Linked DNA regions of Homo sapiens: region 2 is linked to region 1. A link means that fine-mapping ties the variant in region 1 to the expression of a gene that starts in the linked region. Tissue or cell type: regulatory T cells. Region 1 holds a variant in brackets; the other region holds the start of a gene. All regions are shown on one strand. Distances are from middle to middle.

Region 1 (8,112 bases):
GCCAGGTGTGGTGGCTCACACCTGTAATCCCAGCACTTTGGGAGGCCGAGGAGAGTGGCTCACCTAAGGTCAGGAGTTCGAGGCCAGCCTGACCAACATGGTGAAGCCCCGTCTCTACTAAAAATACAAAAATTAGCCAGTGTGGTGGCACATGCCTGTAATCCCAGCTACTCGGGAGGCTGAGGCAGGAGAATCGCTTGAAGCAGGAGGTGAAGGTTGCAGTGAGCTGAGATCTCACCACTGCACTCCAGCCTGGGCAACAGAGTGAGACTGTCAAAAAAAAAAAAAAGGTCCAGGTCATAGAGAAACAAATGTTTCTTAAGTGCCTACTTTATGTCAGTGGCTTTCCTGGATAAGTAAGATTGGATAAATAAGACATACAGTATTTATGTTTCAGAAAGAAATTAAAAAAGAAAAACAACCAAAACCCTGTATCCCAGATAACTAATTCAGGAATCATTGGTTGAGGAGACCTGATGGATCTTAGTTTAGCCTTTTAAATGTTAAAATGTTCAGCTTTTCTCACATGTGACATTTGCTGGTCTAGATAGCCTTAATTTTACAGCCGCCAAAATTTCTTTGGTATGGCAAATGCAGACAGAAGACTAATCTTGTGGGATTAAGTAGAGTTAAAAACTATTTACAAATAAATTTTAGAGTGTGAATAAATGGACAGACATTACTATGTGTCTCACATAGCAATGGCACATGCGCCCACAGTGCAGTAGTAGATTTCCCCTGGTACCCCGGCATCAGCACTAGTTTACTTTTAAGAGCAGGGCTGAGCTCTTTGGGAGCACATTACTACTTCTTAAGTGTTTTTTCTGCTATCTCAGGATATCCCGCATGATATTCTGACTACTTTAGAGGCCTGGGCAACTACGCTCCATTCATCATCAGTGTGAAAGAAATCTACACATTACATACGGTTAAGGATATTTCTTTGTTCCTTTTTGTGTTGCAATTTAAATCAGAGCCAATGTGGTGTATTTTAGCTGCGTTTTAGGTATGTAAAATTTTCAGTACTATGGTTGCTGCAAATGTAATTGTGGTTTTTGCCATTGCTTTTAGTGGCAAAAACCACAATTACTTTTGCACCAACCAAATACTAAAATAAACTTTTTTCATTATATAAATTTGATACCATGATATAGACTTAAGAAATCAAACCTTAAAAATATCTAGTTCAAATGGCATACTATTATAGTAAATGATGTAATAATTTTAAGCAATTAAACATTATCACTTAACCATATTCTCCTACATGATTGGCATTTTAATGCAAGTAGTGTCAGTTAAAGAGAAAAGTTCTTTTGATAAAAGCTCTATTGATATAATAACTAAAGTCAAAGTTAATTCTAAATAGTAAATAAATCGATCAATGCACATTTATTGGGGGTAATTCTGTGTTTTCTGCACAATTCCAGAGTTGCGGAAGATAACATAATTCCCTTTCGAAAGCAGAAAGAAAAATACAAGGGAATTTCTAATTAAATGATTGATTATATGGCATAAGTGTATTTGCTATAGAAGTTAAGAAGAGAGCTATGAAAGCGGGAATGAAAATTTGAACTAGCAAGGTTAGATCAGATTTAAATGACTGGAAGAAAGTAGGAAAGATATTTTTGGCAAACCTAAAAGCTGGGATTGAATGTGTGAGGCTCTGAGGTGAGGCCACTCTGTGAGTACAGCTGTCAGTGTATGTTGAAGTGAAGCAGGATAGGGGCTAATGTGGAGAATAGGGCTAAGTTATAAAGAGACCTGAAGGCCATGAAAACAAACAGAGGTAGGCTGGGCGTGGTGGCTCATGCCTGTAATCCCAGCACTTTGGGAGGCCGAGGCAGGCAGATCACCTGAGGTCAGGAGTTCAAGACCTGCCTGACCAACATGGTGAAACCCCATCTCTACTAAAAATACAAAAATTAGCTGGGCGTGGTGGCGGGCATCTGTAATCCCAGCTACTCAGGAGGCTGAGGCAGGAGAAACACTTGAACCTAGGAGGCGGAGGTTGCAGTGAGCTGACATCCTGCCATTGCATTCTAGCCTGGGTGACAGAGCGAGACTCTGTCTCAAAAAAAAAAAAAAAAGAAAACAAACAGAAGTAAGAACAGGTAGAGATGGGCAGGGAAACAAAACATTTCTTGGTTGTATTGTACAAATTATAATCGGTAACATTCATTATTAGCTTAATTATTAGCCGAATATTGTGCTAAGAATTTCACATAAATTACATAATCCTCATATCAACCTTGTAAGTTGGTATAATGATTGTTATTTTAAAGATGAGAAAACTGAGACACACAGAGAATAAGTCACTAGGCGATTATACACAGGTAGTATATGGAAGAATCAAGATTTAAAGTCAGGCAATTTAGCTTCCAAATTTCTATACTGAGATACTTTACCATCCAACATCGCGAGGAGGCTCTCGGCCTAAAAAGTTACACAACCCTATGAAAGAGGTATTATTATCCTAATTTTCGAGTTGATATACTGAGTGTCCACAAATTACTACTATGGCAGTTAAAATGGAAATTTCTACTTACCTGAAAGCACAATACAGCATTTACTCTGAGTTCAATTGCAATAAAAGGAAAATATTTAATCAATAATTTAATCAGTATATAGAGACAGCAATACTGTGTGCCAAACACCGTTGGTGGTACTAAAGATATAACTTGGGGACTTTGTAATTAACTAAATATTTTGTTATACTTATTTCTTCATTTATCTATATGCATTTTATATGCTCAGCTACTAATATTTTCTTTTTTTCATTATTTATTATACTTTAAGTTCTGGGATACATGTGCAGAATGTGCGGGTTTGTTACATAGGTATACATGTGCCGTGGTGGTTTGCTGCACCTATCAACCTGTCATCTAGGTTTTAAGCCTCGCATGCATTAGGTATTAGGTATTTGTCCTAATGCTATTCCTCCCCTAGCCCCCCACCCCCTGACAGGCCCCAGTGTGTGATGTTCCCCTCCCTGAGTCCATGTGTTCTCATTGTTCAACTCCTACTTATGATTGGGAACATGTGGTGTTTGGTTTTCTGTTCCTCTGTTAGTTTGCTGAGAATGATGGTTTCCAGCTTCATCCACGTCCCTCCAAAGGACATGAACTCATGCTTTTTTATGGCTGCATAGTATTCCATGGTGTATATGTGCCACATTTTCTTTATCCAGTCTATCATTGATGAGCATTTGGGTTGGTTCTATGTCTTTGCTATTGTGAATAGTGCTGCAATAAACATACATGTGCATGTGTCTTTATAGTAGAATGATTTATAATCCTTTGGGTATATACCCAGTAATGGGATTGCTGGATCAAATGGTATTTCTGGTTCTAGATCCTTGAGGAATTTTCTTCTGTCAACATTTACTTTGGTTTATTCTGAATTTCAGCCTAACCATTCCCTACCCTTATGCTTTGAAGACAAGACAGGAAACAGGTACCAACAAGCACAATACCAGTGATGAAAATCACAGTTGTAAGTTTCCTCTGGTGTGGAGCCACCTAGTGAAAGTAAAAGCAGATTGTTAAATATTTCAGAAGTTTGATGGCTGATTGTTATAGTTTATAGTTTATATGTTATAGTTTATAGATTGTTATATAGCTTGAAATTAGCCATCACAGGGTGCATCTACATCACAGAAATTGGCAAACATTACTGACAGTATGATTGATATATATATATATATATATGCTATTAAATGTGTATATATGTAAAATGTGATATATATGCTATTAAATTTGTATATATATGCTATTAAATGTGTATATTATATATGTGTGTGTATATATGTGCTATTAAATGTGTATATTATATATGT[G/GTGTGTGTA]TGTGTGTGTGTGTGTGTGTGTGTGTGTGTGTGTGTATCTGTTCTATTTTCAGTGGCTCGCTGCACAGAACTGCCAGGGAAGAAGACTTTTTATTTGGGTGAAGTCAACCAGAGGGATGAGAGCCAAACCTCAAATCCATCTCTCCAAATTGATTAAAATTGGTGTGTTGACATAGTGGGGGGGAAATATAACTACATGTGGGAAACAGGAATTAGAGGAATTAGGGAAGGGTGAGGAAGCAATCACGATTGATGGGGGCTCTGGCTTCTCCTTGTCTGGGTGCCAGGATCTGGTGAGTCCCTTGCCTGAGGTTTGGTTTCCTGAGGAAGGAACCCAGAGGAGACAAATGTTAAGTTTCAAGTTTCAAGATCAGGAGGATCAATCTCTATGTTTATTGAAAAAACCCCATAAATATCAGTTCTATGGGAAAATTGGGCCAGTTTTATATAAATATGTGTAATATGTGTACGTATAATTTTGAAGTGCTTTAGTAACATAGTTGCTTTGTTCATTTATTGATTCCATAAATACTGAATATGTATACATATTGTAAATATGTCATCTGTATACACACAGGGGCACACACACATATAGGTTTTCATCCATTGTTCCTGGCTCATAACTCCCGTAGCCTTTGTAACAGTTTTTATAATGCTGTGGCTCTTTAGGTCTCAAAAAACAGAAACTCTCTCTCTGACCTTCTCCTATTCTCCTGTCAGCAGCCCGAGACAGGACTCTAATCTTCTTTCACCATTCTGATTGTGGGTTATAAGATCCTCATTTCAGAAGGGGTCCTGGCCCTTAGCCTGGAAAAAGGAATACAGCACAGAGAAGCCAAAAAGAATCTGGACAAGCCTTGCTGGGTTTCTGTTCAGCCTATTAGTGTTAGAGAATACCCTTTTTGTCCAATCATACTTCTCCCTGGTGGTCAATTCTGTCTATGCAGTGAAGTCTCCATTAAAGGCCCAAGAGGACAGGGTGCAAGAGAACTTCTGGATAGCTGAATATGTGGAAGCTGAGAGGAAGGTGAACAAGAATTCATCTATGTGCTGGGAAGTGGTGCACCCCAACTCCAAAGGGACAGAAGCTCCTGTGCTTGAGACCCTTCCAGACCTTGCCTTGTGTATCTCTTCATCTGGCGGTTTATGTGTATCCTCTAAAATATCCTTTGGCATAAACTGCTAAACATCATAAATGTTTTCTTGAGTTCTATGAGCCGCTCTAGAAAATTAATTGAACCCAAAGAGGGGGCTCTGAGAGTCCCAATTTGAAGCCAGTGCATTAGAAATTCTAGAGGCTGGGGTATGCTGATGGGAAGGAGGGGGTGGTTTTGTGTGACTGAGCCCCCAACTTGTGGGATCTGAGGCTGTCTCCAGATAGTGGCTGAATTGAATTGAATTGGAGGGCACCCAGCTGGTGTCTGCTGCAGAGCTGATTGCTTGCTTAGTGTGTGGGGAGAAACCCCACACATTTGGTCACAGAAGTCTTCTGTGTTGCTTGTGGTGATAGAACAGAGGAAAAACAGTTTGAGTTTTTCCACTATCACAAGTACAAATGAGGGCTTTTTTTTTTTTTTCAGTCTAGCTGCCAGTACACCACTGCCCTCCTCCTTTGTGAGATCTTTGTAGGTTCTATTCTCATTCTTTCAGATGCCTGGTATATTTGTAATTTGCATCCTGTTATTTGTATCTTTTTTTCCTATCAAAGAGAGCTCACAAGAATGGAGAAGGGGAAGGGAATTAATATTTCCTAAGCATCTGCTGTATATCAATTACTGTGCTTAACTGTACATATTATTTGATATTCATGATAACTCAGTGAGTTAATTATTACTCCCATTTTCAGGCTAGAAAACTGTGACTTAGAAAGGTTAAGTTACATTTCTGTGGTCAAACATATAAGAACTGAAGTTGAGGGCGGGCACAGTGGCTCACACCTGTAATCCCAGCACTTTGAGAGGCCGAGGTGGGCAGATCAGGAGGTCAGCAGACCAAGACCATCCTGGCCAACATGGTGAAATCCCATCTCTATTAAAAATACAAAATTTAGCTGGGTAGGGTGGCACGTGCCTGTAATCCCAGCTACTCGGGAGGTGCCACTGCACTCCAGCCTGGGCAACAGAGCGAGAGTCCTTCTCAAAATAAAAAAAAGAACTGAAGTTGAATTTCTTATATGTGACTTCAAAGTCCACAGTCTTTCCAGCTGGTGAATGTGTCAGTAATTTAGGCTTCTGGGTTTGTTTAGAGTGGCTAATTTTGAAATGCTTTAGTAACTGTTTTACATAGTTGCTTTGTTCATTTATTGATTACATAAGTACTCAAGAGATATGGCCGGGTGCGGTGGCTCATGCCTATAATCCCAGCACTTTGGGAGGCCAAGGCAGGCTGATTATGAGGTCAGGAGATTGAGACCATCCTGGCTAACATGGTGAAACCCCGTCGCTACTAAAAATACAAAAAAAATAGCCGGGCATGGTGGCGGGCACCTGTAGTCCCAGCTACTCGAGAGGCTGAGTCAGGAGAATGGCGTGAACCCGGGAGGCAGAGCTTGCAGTGAGCCGAGATCGCGCCACTGCACTCCAGCCTGGGCGACAGAGCAAGACTCCGTCTCAAAAAAATAAATAAATGAAAAAAAAGAAATAACTGGGTCCCCATCTGACAATGAGAAGCACATTTAATGCCTTAAGGTAGGAATGAAAGAGGCAGACACCTGAACAGAGAGAGCGGGTGTGTGGAAGGCATTGTTTCCTAATCACAAGCATTTGAAAAAGGCTTTTTGGGGAAGCAAATATAGGCCTCTTGACGTCCAAGAAATCCTACTGCATTCCTATTCCAGTTAAGGCTGAGCCTGGAAACAATGTTTAGTACCTGTTCTCTTAAAGACCTTTCATACCACTTCAGCTGTAAGTTAATAATGGAGTCTTTGTATAATAAAAGAGTAAAAATAGACTTGTTTTTCTATTACATTTTGTTTTTGGTTAGGGAGGAAAAAAACGTGAAGCTGTATCAAGGTTGTATTTGTCCTAATAAATTTTGCTTTAGATTCATTGACGTTCAAAGGCACAAGTCTCCTAAATCTCAGCTCTGCTATTTGTTACCTACTTATTACATTGCACCTGTTGATAACTAGCTCAGCTTTTTGGCCCCACTTTTCTCATCTATAGTTTCACTACTGTATGAATACTCACCTTACAAGGCTGTCTGGCTATAGATAATGTACATAGTCTCTCCAATCTACTTTTGTACCCAACTTCTATCACTTTCCTGTGGAATCCTTAATGTTAGTAAAACTTTTCTCCTCACTACGCTTTGATCAGTCCTTTGGGATTAACTTTCCTGAAATGCCTCCTTTTCTCTTTGTCCCTTCAGTCTCCAACCCGAAGGCCCAAGTCAAGTTTAGTACCCTCCCAAATCCTTCCCAGTCCATGATATCTGCTTTAGATCTCTTCTATTCTCTTCTGAGTTTAGACTTGGTCTTCCTTTCCTTTACCTATTTGTAATTATAAACCATCATTAGCATCTCTTGTAGCATTGCTTTGTGCGGTTACACATATCTTTCCCTTTTCTTTCCAACAAGATTTTAATTACCTAGAGGTTGGGGTTGTTATGTTTCTTCACATTTCTCATAGAGTGCAACACACCTGAACAGTCTCAAACAGCAGCAACATTAATATGTACTAACATTCATAATCCTTCCATGAGCATTGCATACAGAACTGTGCACAGGGTGAATGTTTAATAAGTATTGCAGTAATTACTTATTACTTCTGTGTTAATTGTAGTATGTTCCGAGGATCCAACCTCTGCAGCACTTTTGCTCAGTTTCTTGACCTGCATAAATTCCCAAGAAAATTAACAAAAAGTTTGTTATGGTCTGAACTATGTCCTTCCCAAGTTGATAGGTTGAAATCCTAACCCCCAGTATCTCAGAATGTGACTGTATTTTGAGATAGGGTATTTGAGGAGGTAATAAAGGTTAAGTGAAGTCATTAGTGTGGGACTGGTGTCCTTATAAGAAGAGGAGGTTAGAAGACAGGCACATACAGAGAAAGGACCATATAAAGATACAGGGAAAAGACACCTATGTACAAGCCAAGGAGGGAGGCCATAGAAACCAACCCTACAGGCTGGGCGCGGTGGCTCACGCCTGTAATCCCAGCACTTTGGGAGGCCGAGGCGGGCGGATCACAAGGTCAGGAGATCGAGACCATCTTGGCTAACACGGTGAAACCCCGTCTCTACTAAAAATACAAAAAATTAGCCGGGCGTGGTGGCGG
Region 2 (8,097 bases), 100 kb before region 1:
TCCAAGTTCATCAGGACTTCCTCCAAAGCCTACAGAGCCGTCACACTGCTCTCTCTCACACATGGCACAGCCGCTCTCCACTGCATCCAGGGCAGAGCCTCCAGATGCTAATGCCCTCCACGCTGTTAATCAAATCCCAATAATGCTTGTTTATATATATATTTTTTTTTCAATGCCAAATGCAACAAACCAACTCCAATTTAACAACTTTTTCACATTTACTGAGTTAAGCTGATTTTTTAACACATTAGTTTATCAAGTGTTACAAAGGAGTCAGTGAAGAGTCAAAATTATTTAACTAGTTATCAGAAGAACTCAAAAAACTGGCTATTGGTGCAAGCTGAAGGTTTTTTTTTTTTTCACTTACTAATATCTATCTCTTCTGTGTGCGAGAAACGAAATCAGTATCCCCTCCTTTATTTTAAAAGGTACAATCGAAACCACTAAAAGGCAGTTAAATAAAAAATCCACTAAACCGCAGCCTTCTTCACACATTTCTTCTGCATCATTAGATTAAAATATGCATAATTGATATGTGTATTGAGGTAACACCTATCCCAGGAAGTCTTAATAATACTGAACAGCAAACAATTACAACGTGGACTTCATATGGATTAGTTCATTGAGTCTTCATAACAGCTTCTGTGGTAGGTACTGTACAATCACGACCCTCATTTTAAAGAAAAGTAAACAGAGCCACAGGTCAGGCAGTTAGTTTAAGGTCACACAGCTGGTAAGTAGCAGAGCCAGGATCCCATACATTTGGGGGTGTGGGGGGAAGGGTCTTTGATGGACAATTTCTTTTCTGGTAACAACAGAATTCCTTGAAGAGTGGGTGCTCTGGTTGGTAAACACTACAGCACCTACAGGCTTGAAAGTGTATTTACGCAAGTTCCCTCTTTCAATACAGGCAACTTAAACACAGAACTGTCCCCCGCCCAGGCTGATGCAATTTCTTTTCGTCTCATTATGGCTGGGAATATCTTTCTCACAGCCTGCTTCTTCATTTTCTCTGAATCGTATGCACTGCCACCAAATTCTGGAGCCAATTCTGCCCTAGAAAGTTAATACGTTAGCAACCTCAGATGGAGGAGGAGGGGTCTGAAAATGACTCTTCTGGTCATTAAGCAAATGAAAGAAACAAGCATAGTACAATGCGAAAATGCCAAGATAATGGTACGTAAAGGCTATTAACAAGGTGTAGAAGGCAGGAACCTAACTCATTCTGGACACGAGGGCAGTTAAGTCAGGGAACGCTTCCTGGAAGAGGTGATACCTTAGCTTAGTGGTTCTCAACCCTGTCTGCAAATCGAAATCACCTAGGGAGCTTTTTAAAGAAAAACAGTGGCCCTGATTCCAGCAGTTAGATCACAGTCACAGGAGGTGGGCCCCGGCAGGATGATTTTTGAGAAGCTCCCCAGATAGTGTGAATGTACAGCAAAGGTTGGAACCTTGAATTCTAAGTGGCAGGTAAAGTATGACAACACGTGGCAAAAAAAGTAAATGGGAAAAGAGTAGGCTATGGCTGGGACACTATTAGTCGTCTACAAAATTGCAAAGAAGTGAAGGATTAGAAACGAGAGGTGGAGACGTACACAGCCCGTGAAAAGACTGTCAGGCAGAAAAGCGTAGCTGCTACTTGATTAAAGCACAAAGGCCATAACTATGGTCAGCAGCAGGGTGGAAAATACATTGCGCTGGGGGCTGCATGAAGGGAGGACCTAAAATGCAACAGCGGTAGGTGGGGAGGATGCAGTAAAGGCCACTTGCAAGAGACTGAGCGGCGCTGGAGACTCGGGAAGACCTAGAGGGCGGGACCGCGAGGCCCGGCCCAGCCCGGCGCTCTTCCGTCCGCCCTGCCGGGTGACTGCAGCGGGGCGGGCTAGTCATCCCCACCCGCAAGCTCTCGCGGCGCAGCCGCCCGCCCAGGCCGCCAACCCGCACCTGCTTCGGTTGCATTCTTAAAGGGCCAAGTGTTGACGACCAGGGGCAGAGGGCTGGAGCAGCGCACTAGGGCCTGGCAGAGCAGAAACGGCACGAGAAGCACAGGCAAGTTCGACTTCCGCGCCATCCCTGACCACCGAAGAGACCAGCGCGAGAAAAGTCCCGGCAGCCAGCGATCGCCGAACAATTAATCCCCAGTGCCCCGCCCGCCTGGCGCCCACGCCCGCTCTCTCGGGGGTTCGCTCAGGCGTCCCTCAACTCTCGCGAGACGAGGCGTCCCTGGGCCCGCGGGAGAGTTGTGTCACGGGGCACTGAGCTGTTCCCTGCGCTAAGGTGCTTCTTCCTAAGTGCTGTTCAGATTTTTAAAATAGCCAGACAAGTTGCTGCTTTTCCTGTGGTTAAAATAGATTTAGCTTGATATTGGGAATTTAATACAAAATTATTCAACTCTGGGTTGCAGGGCCCCAGGAACTTTAGCCGATTGCTGTGTACTATGGATTTGGTTCTTTTACTGTCTTTTTAATTTAAAGTTGAAGTTGAAAAGTTTGTCAAACTCAGTATATTCTTGGGGATCCCAGGCCTCGGAGGTCTGCAATAGTTATGAGTGTAGGTGAAGCGTGTTTGCTTAGGACCGGATTGATTTTAGATTTTTTTTCCATTCATAGCGTCCGTCATTTTCGCACCACAGCTTTTTGTAGCACTTCCTCTCATTATAAATCCCTGAGCTGGAAGAAAAACAGAAACGGCCTATGTACCCTCTACCTAGCACACTGAAGTGCAGCTTCCTGCACCTCCAGGGCAAGACGGCTACCTCCATTCCTTTTTAAATGTATTTTTACCTTCCTGCCTGGCACTATTAAGTGCTAAATAAATGAATAAGAGGAGGAATGGGGATTTTACGTGCTTGGTGGAGGCTGCTCAGTTTTGTTGCTGGGCAGACGTGCGAACATGAACTAATAATCCCTTTGGGTGTCTGGAATGCCTGCCCAGGTTGCCAAGGCAAGACACATAATCACATAATTTTTAAAAGCATCTATAAATCTATACAAACTTTAAAAATATGAACTAGGCTGGGCACGATGGCTCACGCCTGTAATCCCAACACTTTGGGATGCTGAGGTGGGTGGATCACGAGGTCAGGAGTTCGAGACCAGCCTGGCCAACATAGTGAAACCCGTCTCTACTAAAAATACAAAAATTAGCCGGGCGTGGTGGTGCATGCCTGTAGTCCCAACTACTTGGGAGGCTGAGGCAGAATTGCTTGAAGCCGGGAGGTGGAGATTGTGGTGAGCCGAGATCGCACCACTTCACTCCAGCCTGGACAACAGAGTGAGATTCTGTCTCAAAAATAAATAAATAAATAAATGTAAAAATATAAACTAGGTAGGAGTTGTGAGACTTACAAAACCTTCAAGGCTCTTATTGATTGCTAGGAAATTAAATACATAATTTAAAGAACATAAGATAGCCCAGAAGTATCATTATCCCGTTGGGGAAGTGTTAATTAAAAGATATAATAAAGACAAATTTTCTAAGTTCCTTTCATGGGGTTTGGAAGAGGAACAAGTCATCTGTGCTGGAGTAATCATAACCCAATGGCAGGTGAAACTGGAAACTTGGGTGAAACAGGGTAAGAAAGCCAGAAAAACATACATTGTCCTCTGAGTAAATTTTCCTTAGCTCCTGGGCTGAGTATTTTTATGCAGCCTTAAGGAATTAGGACATGCCTTTAGCAAAAATTGTAAAATACAATACATGGAAAATTGGTCTTAGTACCCCACTGATCTCTCTAGCCTCTTCCTGTTTTTTAAGGTATTTGTGTTTCTTCTGGTGGAAAGAGCCTGATCTGTTACCTCCTACTATGTCTATTTCTCCAAATTCTTTCTTCTTAAATAAAAATTCCTGTCAGAGAAACAGCTAAATTACACTATAGTGGGAATGGCTGATAGAAGGTCTCAATATATCAACTTTTCCATGGATATTTGTATGTATGTATGTATGTATGTATTTATTTTTTGAGATGGAGTCTTGCTCTATCGCCCAGGCTGGAGTTCACTGGTGTAATCTCAGCTCACTGCAACCTCCACCTCCTGCATTCAAGCGATTCTCTTGCCCCAGCCTCCTGAGTAGCTGGGATTGCTACTGCCTACTACCATGCCCGGCTAATTTTTGTATTTTAAGTAGAGACAGGTTTTGCCATTTTGGCCAGGTTGGTCTTGAACTCCTGACACAGGTGATCCACCCACCGCCCCCACCCCCCCGACCTCCCAAAATGCTGGGATTACAGGTGTGAGCCACCGTGCCCAGCCGGATATTTGTATTTAAATAACTAATATGCAATCCCTATAGAATCTACCCGATTCAGTGTCTTCTTAGTGGCTACTAAAATACCTACTGGATCCACTGTCCAGTTTGCCTAAATTGTAGCTGTTTCTTAAGTTAAATTCGTCTGGATATTTGGTTCCTTCTGGAGTAGTTTTCCTTTGACTAACACTTGAAGAATAATTTTCATTTTAGTTCTAGAAGTAACCTTCTGTTACTCTCACTTAGGTGCTCTTTTGGGCCTAAATATAATTAGATCCTTCGCCGTTGTTTTGAGGTAAATCTAAACGAAAAGGAACACCTGTTAACAGGTAGTGATGCCGCAGGAAAGTGCTGGGAAGGGAATGCTGGGAAGGGAAGGGCGTGGTCCCTTTAAATGATAAGGAAGGGGGGCGGGAAGTGCTGGGTAGAGGAGGGCGTGGTCCCCAGCTAGGGCTTCATCCCTGGGCCTGGGCCTACCTAGGTGAAGACAGGCATTTTTGTTTTCCTGCCCGGATGTTGCATTTCCCAAGACCACCCTGGCCTGCCATGCCCTCATCCTGTGCCTTTAAAAACCCCCGAGACCCTGGCAGGCAGACGCACAAGCAGCTGGACATTGAGAGGAGCATATAGGCAGAGAATACAGGGGCTGCTGGATGTCGAAAGGAACGCACCAGCATAGGAGCACACCGGCATGCTGGCAGGCCATTGACCAGCGGAAGAATGCAGAGTTTGTCGCGGGAGGTCAGAGAAGAGTCAGGCCGCCATACCTGACTCCAGGAGAAAACCGTCTCCCTTCTGGTTCCCCCGTCTGCCGAGAGCTACTTCCACTCAATAAAACTTTCCACTCATTCTTCAAGCCCACGTGTGATCCAATTCTTCCCGTACACCAAGGTAAGAACCCGGGATACAGAAAGCCCTCTGTCTTTGCGATAAGGCAGGGGTCTAATTGAGCTAACACAAGCCGCCTACAGACGGTTAAACTAAAAGAGCACCCTGTAACACATGCCCACTGGGGCTTCAGCTGTAAACATTCACACCTAGACACTGCTGTGGGGTCAGAGCCTCACAATCTGCCCGTCTGTATGCCCCTATAGAGGTTTGAGCAGCAGGACACTGAAGAAGCGAGCCACACCCCCATCACACGCCCTGCAAGGGCGACAAGGGAACTTTTCCTGTTTCAGTAGTAGACCGTAAAATAAATGATCCTCAGTTTTTCCAGCATCCTCTCCAATTTTTCATTCTTTTAAATCATTATACACAGGGCAGAGATATTTAGTGTTACTGATAAATCAAAGGAACTATTTGTAAAAGTATTTTTATTTAAATTTAGAATGCATTACACAATTTTGTTTGGCAAAATGTTTCTGTTCCTAAGTAGAGCTTACTTATAACTAGCAATACTTCAGGAGGATTTTCCAGACTTAGATTTTAAAACTTAGGGTGTGGCCAGGCCTAGTGGCTCATGTCCATAATCCTGGCACTTTGGGAGGCTGAGGTGGGTGGATGGCTTGAGCCCAAGAGTTTGAGACCAGCCTGGGCAACATAGCGAGATTCCTGTCTCTATTAAAAAAAAAATTAAAAAAAGGTGACTGTGTATCAGCTGTGGTTAACTCATGTAAGCTTCCTAAGCCATGCTTTTCTCATCTATAAAATGGAGATAATAATAGTATTCTTTCTTATTTTACAAAGCTTTGTGAATGAGGTAGGAGATGTGGGAGAATGGTGTAATACCAGGCAAATTAAATAAAATTCTCTTATTCTAATTTGCCATTCCCAAGTACCTATAATTGATGTCAAGGAGGCAGTCCAGAAACATACAAGGCAGTAAAAAGAAATCAATTTGATCAATTTGAGACACAGAAATTTCCACAGGAAGAATAAAGAGTTGGCCCAATACCTATAATGCATTTGAAAGTAATCACTTAGAATTTCCTTGAATATATTAAATGAGAATTAAAAATAATGTTTTTAGTTTACTTGGAGCTGCCTGAAATTTGGTTTGAATGCTTATAAAGATGGTGCATGGCAGGACTGTGAGATTTCTGGATGTCTTAAAAACAACACCCTTAAGTCTTAACAAGGGGAAAGCCTCAAATGGAATCTTAAGTGATGTTGCAAATAGAGCCTTTGTGTGTTTGTGTTTGTGTATGTGTGTGTGTTGGAGGTGGGTGGAGGAGTTTCAGACCGCTGCAGGCTCTCTTATTTCCTCTAAACTTCATGGCTTTCAATTTATCAGTCTCAGAAGGATGAAGAGTTGAGTCCCTCCTGATAGCATTTGAAGCTGTGGTTCCACAGAGGATTTAATGCTGTAGTTGCAGGGAGTCTAGGTATTTCAATTCTGAGGCTTAAAAAACTAAGCCATCCCCTCCGGCTTTTGCACTGATGCTGTGAAATCCATTTGAGAAACATGTCCATGTTTTGCTACTTGTTCAAAGCTGTAAGCCTGACTTGGCATTGAAATGATAATTTCTTTTTCAAAACTCCCCACTGAACTATTACCTAGGTTATCTAAATATAGGCTATTTACTTGATTGGCATTTGCTCCTGTCAGTTTCATAAACTGTAAGTAATGATTTTTGCTGATGTTAGAGCATTGTGGTACTGTGTTTCTAATTTAAATCAATGTCTACATTAATCTGGGAACATTTGATGTTACTACCTGATTGTACATTCTGGATGTAATTAGAGTCATTATACAGAAATAAGTGTCATCCTCTTATTCTCTAAATGAGAAAAGAGAGCATTCTTCTCTTCTGAAATAATTTTTCTGGGTCATGCCCCCAAAACCATTTGTCAAATCAATAGCAGATTCTAATCACAAACTTTTTTGACTTTTTAACCTTTAAAAGTCATCTTAGTGACTTATAAAGACCAAGATTGTGCAGTAGAATGTGGGCCTATTAAGTTATTTCTTATCAAAATAAATTATGTACAACATATTTTCAATGTGTAATTGTAATACTGGGCCACTGCTGTGATATAGTTTTCATAACAAGGACATAGTAGACTATTAAACATGGTGGATCTTGCTTTTTGTGACAGTTGTTTATAACATTATGATGTCATCATAAATGTGATCCATTACAATAGTAAAGCCTTAGGGCAACAGAGTAGATGTCAGGATGTCTTCCTACCACTTAAAAAATGACTTTGACATTGTTAAGGTAGTGTGACAGATGATTTCAATAAAGAAATTCAACAATAAAAGCAAACTTCTAAACTAACAGTGACTTACAGGAAGTACATTATGCATTTAAAATGATATCTACTTGTCGATCATGACAATGAGTATTAGAAAACTATCCAAATAATGAACACATGTATCCTGTGTGTAGCTACACAAATAGTCTGTTAATTCTCAATCATTCATATAAAAATATGAAAGGAAAGATTTTCACATAACATAGCTTATTTTTTTCATTTTTTAGAAACACTTTTGTGTCCTTCAAATATCTCTGAAATACTCTAGCTCTTGTTGAAAATCACCAGCCTCTTAACATTTTGATATGTATCTGTTTGGTGAAAAATCTTGGTATTATACACACTGTTGTAGAACCTGCTTTTTTATTTAATATCTCTTTGACCTCTGCATATCATTAAAATTTATGCTTTTTAAAAACCTTCATTGTGCAATGTAAATACAGTAAAGGACATAAAATGTAAATAAATAGATTAAATAATTTTGTAGAAAATGAACAGCTATGTAATCACCACTTATATAAACAAACAGAATATTGTCAGTACCCCAGAAAACCGCTAAGGACCTCTATAACATGTTCTCTGAAGATTTAAAAAAATTTTATTTAATTTTTTATTTTTATAGATACGGGGTATAAGTGTAGTTGTGTT

Alleles and levels. Positions count from the first base shown, and alleles are read on the strand shown. Sizes are in standard deviations (SD) of each study's normalised expression.
For the expression in regulatory T cells of the gene that starts at base 4,706 in region 2, allele GTGTGTGTA in region 1 goes with a higher level than allele G (large effect, 1.0 SD a copy in Bossini-Castillo 2019).

The links. PIP is the estimated chance that this variant, and not a neighbour inherited with it, causes the effect.
Region 2: it holds the start of AGA-DT, and the variant in region 1 is fine-mapped to the expression of AGA-DT in regulatory T cells (Bossini-Castillo 2019, PIP 0.92).

The regions. Positions count from the first base shown.
Region 1 is chr4:177,543,454-177,551,565 of GRCh38, forward strand. All of the region lies in intron 1 of AGA-DT (AGA divergent transcript), which reads left to right. Among named protein-coding and RNA genes, the nearest start is that of AGA-DT, 100 kb to the left of the region's middle. The variant G/GTGTGTGTA (reference allele first, on the strand shown) is at 3,836.
Region 2 is chr4:177,440,305-177,448,401 of GRCh38, forward strand. It overlaps AGA-DT (AGA divergent transcript), which reads left to right and starts at 4,706. Exons shown (of 4, transcript NR_183779.1): 1 at 4,706-5,139. It overlaps AGA (aspartylglucosaminidase), which reads right to left and starts at 2,133. Exons shown (of 9, transcript NM_000027.4): 1 at 1,945-2,133; 2 at 1-122. The coding sequence starts at 2,071. RefSeq lists enhancers at 1,179-1,258, 2,085-2,628, 2,719-2,798.